Regions from separate parts of the Homo sapiens genome. Here regions 1 and 2 are each linked to region 3. Evidence: fine-mapped expression QTL. A gene starts in region 3. Each other region holds a variant in brackets. All regions are shown on one strand. Distances are between the middles of the regions. Region 1 overlaps C6orf163 (chromosome 6 open reading frame 163). Region 2 overlaps SLC35A1 (solute carrier family 35 member A1). Region 3 holds the start of C6orf163 (chromosome 6 open reading frame 163).

What was found.
Region 1: its variant is fine-mapped to the expression of C6orf163 in whole blood (TOPMed, PIP above 0.99).
Region 2: its variant is fine-mapped to the expression of C6orf163 in whole blood (TOPMed, PIP 0.93).

Annotation. Positions count from the first base shown.
Region 1 is chr6:87,363,666-87,366,435 of GRCh38, forward strand. C6orf163 (chromosome 6 open reading frame 163) reads left to right here. Exons shown (of 5, transcript NM_001010868.3): 5 at 1,296-1,798. The coding sequence ends at 1,731. Among named protein-coding and RNA genes, the nearest start is that of C6orf163, 20 kb to the left of the region's middle. The variant T/C (reference allele first, on the strand shown) is at 1,409.
Region 2 is chr6:87,486,891-87,489,660 of GRCh38, forward strand. All of the region lies in intron 2 of SLC35A1 (solute carrier family 35 member A1), which reads left to right. It also overlaps the pseudogene RNU6-444P. Among named protein-coding and RNA genes, the nearest start is that of SLC35A1, 15 kb to the left of the region's middle. The variant C/T (reference allele first, on the strand shown) is at 1,378.
Region 3 is chr6:87,343,280-87,346,049 of GRCh38, forward strand. C6orf163 (chromosome 6 open reading frame 163) reads left to right here and starts at 1,534. Exons shown (of 5, transcript NM_001010868.3): 1 at 1,534-1,968. The coding sequence starts at 1,821.

The DNA.
Region 1 (2,770 bases), 20 kb after region 3:
GGACATGAACTCATCATTTTTTATGGCTGCATAGTATTCCATGGTGTATATGTGCCACATTTTCTTAATCCAGTCTATCATTGTTGGACATTTGGGTTGGTTCCAAGTCTTTGCTATTGTGAATAGTGCCGCAATAAACATACGTGTGCATGTGTCTTTATAGCAGCATAACACTAAGACTTTATTTGCCTTTTTCACTCTTAGTCTCCTATGAATATAAAATGGTGTTCTCCAGGGGTTTTGTGATGTGTGATATCACAATAAATTGAAACAGTATGAAAATTCAGCTTTTTGCTAATAAGCCAGAGATTAAAGAGTTGTGCAAAAAAAAAATTAGGCTGGGTACAGTGGCTTATACCTGTAATCCCAGCACTTTGGGAGGCCAGGGCGGGTGGATCACTTGAGGTCAGGAGTTTGAGATCAGCTTGGCCAACATGGTAAAATCCCATCTCTACTAAAAAATACAAAAATTAGCTGGGTGTAGTCGTGCACACCTGTAATCCCAGCTACTCTGGAGGCTGAGGCATGTGAATCACTTGAACCTGGGAGCTGGAGGTTGCAGTAAGCCAGGGCCAGGCCATTGCACTCTAGCCTGGGTGACGGCAAGACACTGTCTCAAAAAAAAAGTTAAATTATACCATTCTTCTCATGAAATATTTCATTGTTTGGGAAAATGTTTTTCATAAGAGATTTTTAATATTTTAAAAATGTCTCCCTTTTAGTTTATATAACTGTTAATGTCAATGCCTATAACTCATATAAACAAAAGCTCTTTGGCTTCCTCGATAATTTTGAGACTGTAAAGAGCTCCCGAGACCAAAAAGCTTGAGGTGACTGTCATAGAGTATTGCTCAGATAAAATCAAGATTAAAGCTAAATCTATCCTGTGAGTATAAGGATTTTTCATCTCTGGCTAAAGGTCAGCAGCTGGATTAATATAAAGAAATACTTTCTCTACAGAGTTTGGAACTCTGACCCTTATCTCCTCATTTTTAAGCACAATGCATGTATATTTTCCTGAAAAAGGTGATCTCAGGTTCCTAAAGTTGCCGTTAGAAGTTAGACTAGTGGCCTCACCCTAGCCCACAGCAGGGAAGTACATAGGAAGCCTCCCTGCTCTGAAAATGTGTTTTGTTTGATAACAGCTAATGCAATCCAAAAGCTCATCCGTATCAGCCTGTCTCAGGCTGGTGGCTCATCTCAACAATTGCTCATTCATCTGCGTTTAAAGATGAAATTATTTTGTTTTTAGTGGCCAATCCATCTAAATTATAAATCCATATTATCTTTTGTAGCAAAGCCGTGGAGGAAATTGTGAATACTGGTGTCACAGTTATTAAGGATGAGAAGACCAGTGTGGCCCGACTGATGAGGGAAAAAGAACATGAAATGAGCATCCTCTATGGCA[T/C]AGCTCAGAGGCAGAGGCAAGAAGAGGTACAGGAAGTGCTTCAAGAAGCAGAGAAAACACATCAGGCCACTCTTGGCAATATGATGGATAAACTGGCTAACACCCAGGGGGAGCTGCTGTCTATAGCAAAACAACTGGGAATCATGACAAATTGGAAAGATTTCCTAGAGGAGGAATTACAGGAAACCAGGATGGCATTTCAAAAATACATCAATTATACCTTTCCTAAGCTTTCACCAGGACATGCAGATTTTATTCTGCCAGAAAGAAAGAAAACACCTTCTAATCTTGTTATTAAGGAGAACAAAACAACTCTTGATTAGAAGTCTTCAGTTGAAATTCCACTACAAAAGACATCATTCCAGACTAAATAAATTTACTCAAAAACCATGTATTGATTCCCCAGCCTTGTGCAGGGTACTATTGGGCTATAAGAATTTTCATGGAAAACCAAAATATTAAAAAGCACATTCCAGATTATATTGAGCCAAGTCTGAGAAGAAAAAATAGTGAGAGGTAGCAAACTGATTAAGAGGGGAAAGGTTTCTTGGATGAAGCCTAAACACACTTCTGTATCTGTCTTTATTCATTTCTACATCAGACATATAATTAATTATTTCAGCATTTATTGCCATAGAAAACAAGTAAAGGAAAGTGTTCTTAGGTTGTTCCTGTTTTGGGCAGGTGTGCTAAGTTCCAGTAGACAGTTTATCATTTGGTGAATGCAGTAGCATTGTGAATTTAAAAAAGCAATTTCTCTCAAATTCAGTAGGATAAAATTTAAATTCTGGGACTCCCATATAAAGTAATTCAGGAAGGACTTGCTACCCACACAACAAGCAGGTTCAGTCACTTGGTGGGTGTCAACTCAATGACCACAACCAAAGAAGATTTAGCAAGGGGATTTTATTACTTATAAGGAGTAAGGAGAACACCAGGGATAGTCCCCAAAGCAGTGTCTGCCTGAGCTGGGGGCTGGGTCAGGTTTTATAAACATAGGGTAATGAGGCATGATCTGACTGGGTCTTGCAATGAGGGGATGTCAGGAGGCATGATCTAACTGGATCCTGCCATGGGGTGATGCCAAAGCTCAATCCAGTTGGATTCTGGATCCTGCCATGCAGTGTCCACTTCTTAATTCAGTTCCCACTCCTGAGTCAGAGCAATCAGGTTCCCTCTGTGGTTGAACACTTGGTCCATCTGGGCATGCTCAGATTACATGACCTGAGGGTCCATGGCAACTGAAAAACACTGTACTACTTTGTTACGTGAAAGTTGGGCCACATGGGTCTGGTATGGCTACAGACTCATCTATATTTGCCAGTTGTAAAAGAAAAAAAGATGGGAGATATTTCTCAAATC
Region 2 (2,770 bases), 140 kb after region 3:
GTGGAGCCAGGTGCGGTGGCTCACACCTATAATCTCAGCACTTTGGGAGGCTGAGGCAGGTGGATCACTTGAGGTCAGGAGTTCAAGACCAGCCTGGCCAACATGGTAAAACCCCATCTCTACTAAAAATACAAAAATTAGCTGGGCGTGGTGGCACATGCCTGTATTCTAGCTACTTGGGAGGCTGAGGCAGGAGAATTGCTTGAACTTGGGAGGCAGAGGTTGTAGTGAGCTGAGATCACACCACTGCACTCCAGCCTGGGTGACAGAGCAAGACTCCGTCTCAAAAGAAAAAAAAGAAAAAGAAAGTCATTAAATGGTTTAAGTGAGGGACTAACATAGAACCCATGTTGAGAGTCACTTTGACCTCTTTGAGAATGAATTAGAAGTAGGGAAACAATAGAGGCAAGAGATAATCAGCTAGGATGACAGCACAGGTCACGAAGAGAAGTTAATGGATTTGAGTTATGCTCTGGCAGTAGAATCTGTAGGACTTCGTGATGGGTTTGGATAACCTGCTCCTAGGGGATATACAGGGTAGTTTCCTGTGAGCAACTGATCACATTTTTGTCAATTAATCAATACAATAACCTTGTTTTGTGTGTGCTTCAATCTAAAGACACTTTATTTAATGTACATTATTGATTAATTAGCATTGAACTCATGGCCAACAGCACTATAACATGCCTGAACAAAGCTTATCTATCACATGTATTTTCTCCATAATATATAGCATATCCTTCTTATACTTAGGAACATCAGACAGTGCGTCAGCCCTACAATGCTTGGGAGCCATTTAAACAAAATCACCAACACAAAGCACAAAAATGCAAAAAATGTGGTACTGAATAGATTGCACTTGTTTATGATCTGAAAGCGGAAACAAGGCAGAATGTTAACTTGTTCAGCGTCAGCCAGGAATGTGCACACTTGGTGAATCAAATTTTTTGCCACTCTGCACATGTCTGCCAATGACTGCAAGTGTTACCAGCATTGATTTGGGGGTTACAGATACATTTTAATGAGTGGAGAATTCACACGTACAGTCCATGAATAATAATAATCAACTATAGTAGGGGAAGGAAAGGGAGGTATCAGGAAGCATATCTGTGTTTCCTAGTATAAACAATTGGGTAGAGTTATTATTATTTTTGTTTTTTGAAACAGGAAAAACAGATTTGGGGGAAAAAGATATCAACAGTTTGATTTTGGGTAGGTATAATTTAAAGTTTTTAATGTCTTGAGACATCCAAATGGGCAGTTGGATTAAATGGGTCTGGAACTCAGAAGAGAGGTCTGGGCTAGAGATATAAATTTGGGAGTTCTTATCACATAAAAGTATTTAATCTCATGGAATTGGAAGACATTGTTAAAAAA[C/T]AATGATCGTGTAAAAACAATCTTATTTGTAATGTCATTTGACTCCATGTACCTTAAAGATTGCTGTTTTCTGGACAGGATAACCAGAAACCCCAGGACTAATATAAAGAGGAACACATGATAGGTGTGCTCTGTTTAGAGAAATGGAAGGCAGCTTGTTTAAGAAACAACAAAGGAGTGCTTGCTTTGGCAGCACATAATACTAAAAATTTGGACAGTACAGAGAAGATAGCATGGCCCCTGTGCAAGGATGACATGCAGATTTGTAAAGCATTCCACATTCAAAAAACAAAGGAGTCAGTCTGGTACTGAGGCAGTGCCCTAGAACTTTGTAAGAGTTAAATTAAGCAGGCCAGGGTAGGTATAACTCAATCAAGTGTGCAAATTAGAATCTTCAGGTCCCAAGAATTTAAGCAGAGGCAATTGTAGCTCCATGGATTGTTCTTGGTGAGGTTTTGGAGATCTGAAGTCTAGTCACACTCACTTCATGTGTAAGAACTTTGAGCCTGGAAAGGGACTAATTCATACAATCTCTGACTAAAAATTTTGTGTGACCAAATGGATCAGCAAGGTTCCAGATCCATGTTTTAAATGAAATGCCAGTCTCTTTTTCAGAATTTGAGGTGGTAGAGAGGTTCTATAACCAGGTAGTCCTTTTTGGACAGAACCCATGATGGCAATCTAGGTCAAAGGGCTGAGACCCCATTGTCTTTTGTTCTTTCTCTTGCCTTTAATGCCTTCCTTAGGGTAGCTGTAGATGGGTTGCATGCCATGAGGCATGGATATCCTAACATTCACATTAGTATGGTAAAAGTTTTGTAGGCTGAAGGGTATAACTGGTTTGCTAAAACATTGGAAGACAATAGCTTAATTCTAATTCCAAATATTTTCTTTGTCCTGGTTATATGCTGTGGCTTGGATGTGATTTGTCTCCACCAAAACTTATATTGAAATTCTATCCCCAGTGTGGTGATGTTGGGAGGCGGGGTCTAGTGGGAGGTGTTTAGGTTGTGGGGGCAAATTCCTCATGAATGGTTTGGTACTGTTTTCCTGGTAGTGAGCTGTGGCTCTCAAGAGACAGGATTAGTTCTTGCAGGAATTGATTATTTCTCGGGAGTGGGTTATAAAGCCAGGATGCTCCTCATGTTTTGCTCTCTTCACACGTGTCCACCTCCCCTTAGACCTTCTCTGCCATGTGATGCAGCAGGAAAGCCCTCGAAGAAGCCAGGGCCATGCCCTTGAACTTCTCAGCCTGCTCAACTGTGAGCTTTTTTTTTTTTTTTTTTTTTTTGTAGATGGAGTCTTGCTCTGTCATCCAGGCTGGAGTGCAGTGGCGCAATCTCGGCTTACTGCAACCTCCGCCTCCAAGGTTCAAGCGATTCTCCTGCCTCAG
Region 3 (2,770 bases):
TTCATCTCTTTGTTTTTAATTCCTCTCCAAGTCCCAGTTAACCCTTTTCTTGAAGTCAAATCTGGCACAATTTGATAGTTACTTAAGGTCTTCAGCCAGTTATCAGGCCGTATGTGTTAATATAAATTATAGAGTAACTTGTGGTACACTTAGCTCAGGGCCCTATGGGAGTCCTGTTGTTGAAATTAATTTCACTGATGGCACTCACTTATTATAAAATAGTCCTGCCAAGTAGATGCAGCATATGACATTGTCAGGCAATTTTATAAATTCAGTTACTTGGTACAATCAGTTGCACAGATTTTTGCGATAGGTGGAATTTCTATGGCTGTTTATCTAAAATTATAGGAACAAATTAGTTAACCATGTGATTTTTAAAACCAGGCTTAGTAATTTTGAATGCTGCCTTAATGAAAGTAATTTCTTCTTCAAGATACCATGATATTTCCCAGTTTTATTACCATGGCACCAACACATCATGTTTATTAAAAACCTAAAAGAAATTAAGCTACCTCCATTGCTGGCCTTAAAAGAAATTAATTCTTTAAAAACTAATTTAAAACAAAGTGTGGTAGGCTGACTAATGCTCTCCTTCCCTGCAAAAATGTCCAGATCCTAATCTCTGGAACCTGTAAATATGGGACTTTACGGATATGGGTAAGTTTAGGATTTTGAGATGGGGAGATTATCCTGGATTATCTAGATGGGGCTGGTATAATCACCAAGGTCTTTAAAGCACGGCAGAAGATCAGAGGAAGAGACAATGTCACTATGGAAGCACTGGGGGAAAAGGCTATATGATGCAAGGCCATGACCCCAAGGAATATGGATGGCCTTTAGAAGCTGGAAAAGGCAAGCAAACACATTCTCCTCTGAAGCCTGCAGAAGGAACCAGCCCTTCTAACAACTTGATTTTAGCCCCTAAGACTCATTTTAGACTTCTGATCTCCAGAAATGCAAGAGGATAAATTTGTGTTACATTTAAACTATGAAGTTTGTGTAGTTTGTCACAGTGGTGCTATGGTTTGAATATTTGTCCCCTGCAAAACTCATGTTGAACTTTAATCCCCAACGTGGTAGTATTGAGAAGTGGGGCCTTTAAGGGGTGAGTGAATTCATTCATGGGTTAAGGGATTGATGGATTATCATGGGAGGAGAACTGGTGGTTTTATAAGAAGAGGAAGAGAGGCCTGAGCTAGCATGTGAGCTCAGCCCCTGGCCATGTCATACCCTATACCACCTCAGGAATCTTCAGTGAGTTCCCACCACCAAGAAGATTCTTACCTGATGCAACTCCTCCACCTTGGACTTCTCAGCCTCCATAAACTGTAAGAAATAATTTCATTTTCTTTATAAGCTATCCAGTTTCAGGTATTCTATTATAAGCAACAGAAAACAGAGTAAGACAGCAGCAATAGGAAACTAATATAGAAAGTATCAGGAAAATGAATGGCTGTATCATGCTCCCTTTTGTCATTATTTGAAGTTGCTTTTATGAGCAAAGCTTGTCTTACCTAGCAACAGTTGCCAAGTAAGTTAACAACTTAATGCTAGAGTCTGGGAAGGAGCAACTACTTAAATCTTCCCAAATCTGGTGCCCATACCTTCTATGGCAGGGGCTTTTAGCACCATTCTTTAACGTTAGACACATAACCACAGCCTAATCACTTGAACCATTTAATCCTTACCAGCCTCTAGCATTATCCTAAAACCCTGAACCTCTTCCAGCTTTCTTAAACTTTCAGCTTTTCTTGAAACGACTTTTTCTGATTCTAAGATTATTTTAACTGTAAGTAGGAGAAGACATCTGAAATTTAACTATGATCAGAAATTCAGATTACAAAAACTTTGTTTGCTGTGCTGTTTGTAATAAAATAATTCCACCAGCCCCTTTTGGAAAAACCTTCAAACGGATCCATGAATACAAGCCACTTAAGACACGCTTTTACACTCACAAAGACATACTAGGTAAGTGACTTTATCGTTTTCCTTTGTTCTAATGCTTCATAGCCTTATGTGTCATTCTTTCTGTTACATAGACTTTTATCAGCTTTTTTCTCTTCAGAGTTGCTTGTCCCTACAGGGATATTTGAGGAGAATATGGGTTGGAATACAGCTTCTCCACTTACAGTTGTATGTATTGGGCAGGGTATTTAGCCTCTCAATCTGTTTCCTTATGTGGAAATAAATATACTAATACCTATCTTACAGGTTGTTATGAGACTTTAATGAAGTATTTGTATCTATTATAAATCCTGGCACATAATAGTAAATGTGAGTTCATTTTGCCCTTGGCCATACTTGAGCACCTTTCAGTATGTGTAGGAGAGGAAATATTATCTCTAAATAACACCCTAATTGGATGGGCACAGTGGCTCACACCTGTAATCCCAGCACTTTGGGTGGTCGAGGTGGGCAGATCACTTGAGGCCAAGAGTTCAAGACCAGCCTGGCCAACATGGCGAAACCCCGTCTCTACTAAAAAAATTTAAGCAGGCATGGTGGCATGCGCCTGTAATCCCAGCTACTCGGGAGGCTGAGGTAAGAAAATTGCTTGAACCCAGGAGGTGGAGGTTGCAGTGAGCTGAGATCGTGCTACTGCACTCTAGCCTGGGTGACAGAGCGAGACTCTGCCTCAAAAAAAAAAAAAAAAAAAAAAAATTTTAAAGTACCCTAATAAATGGGTAAAAGAAACTATATAACCTTTAAATAGTAGCTGGTAGCATAAAAGTAGATACATATAGATAACATGAGGACGTTTACTGTACAT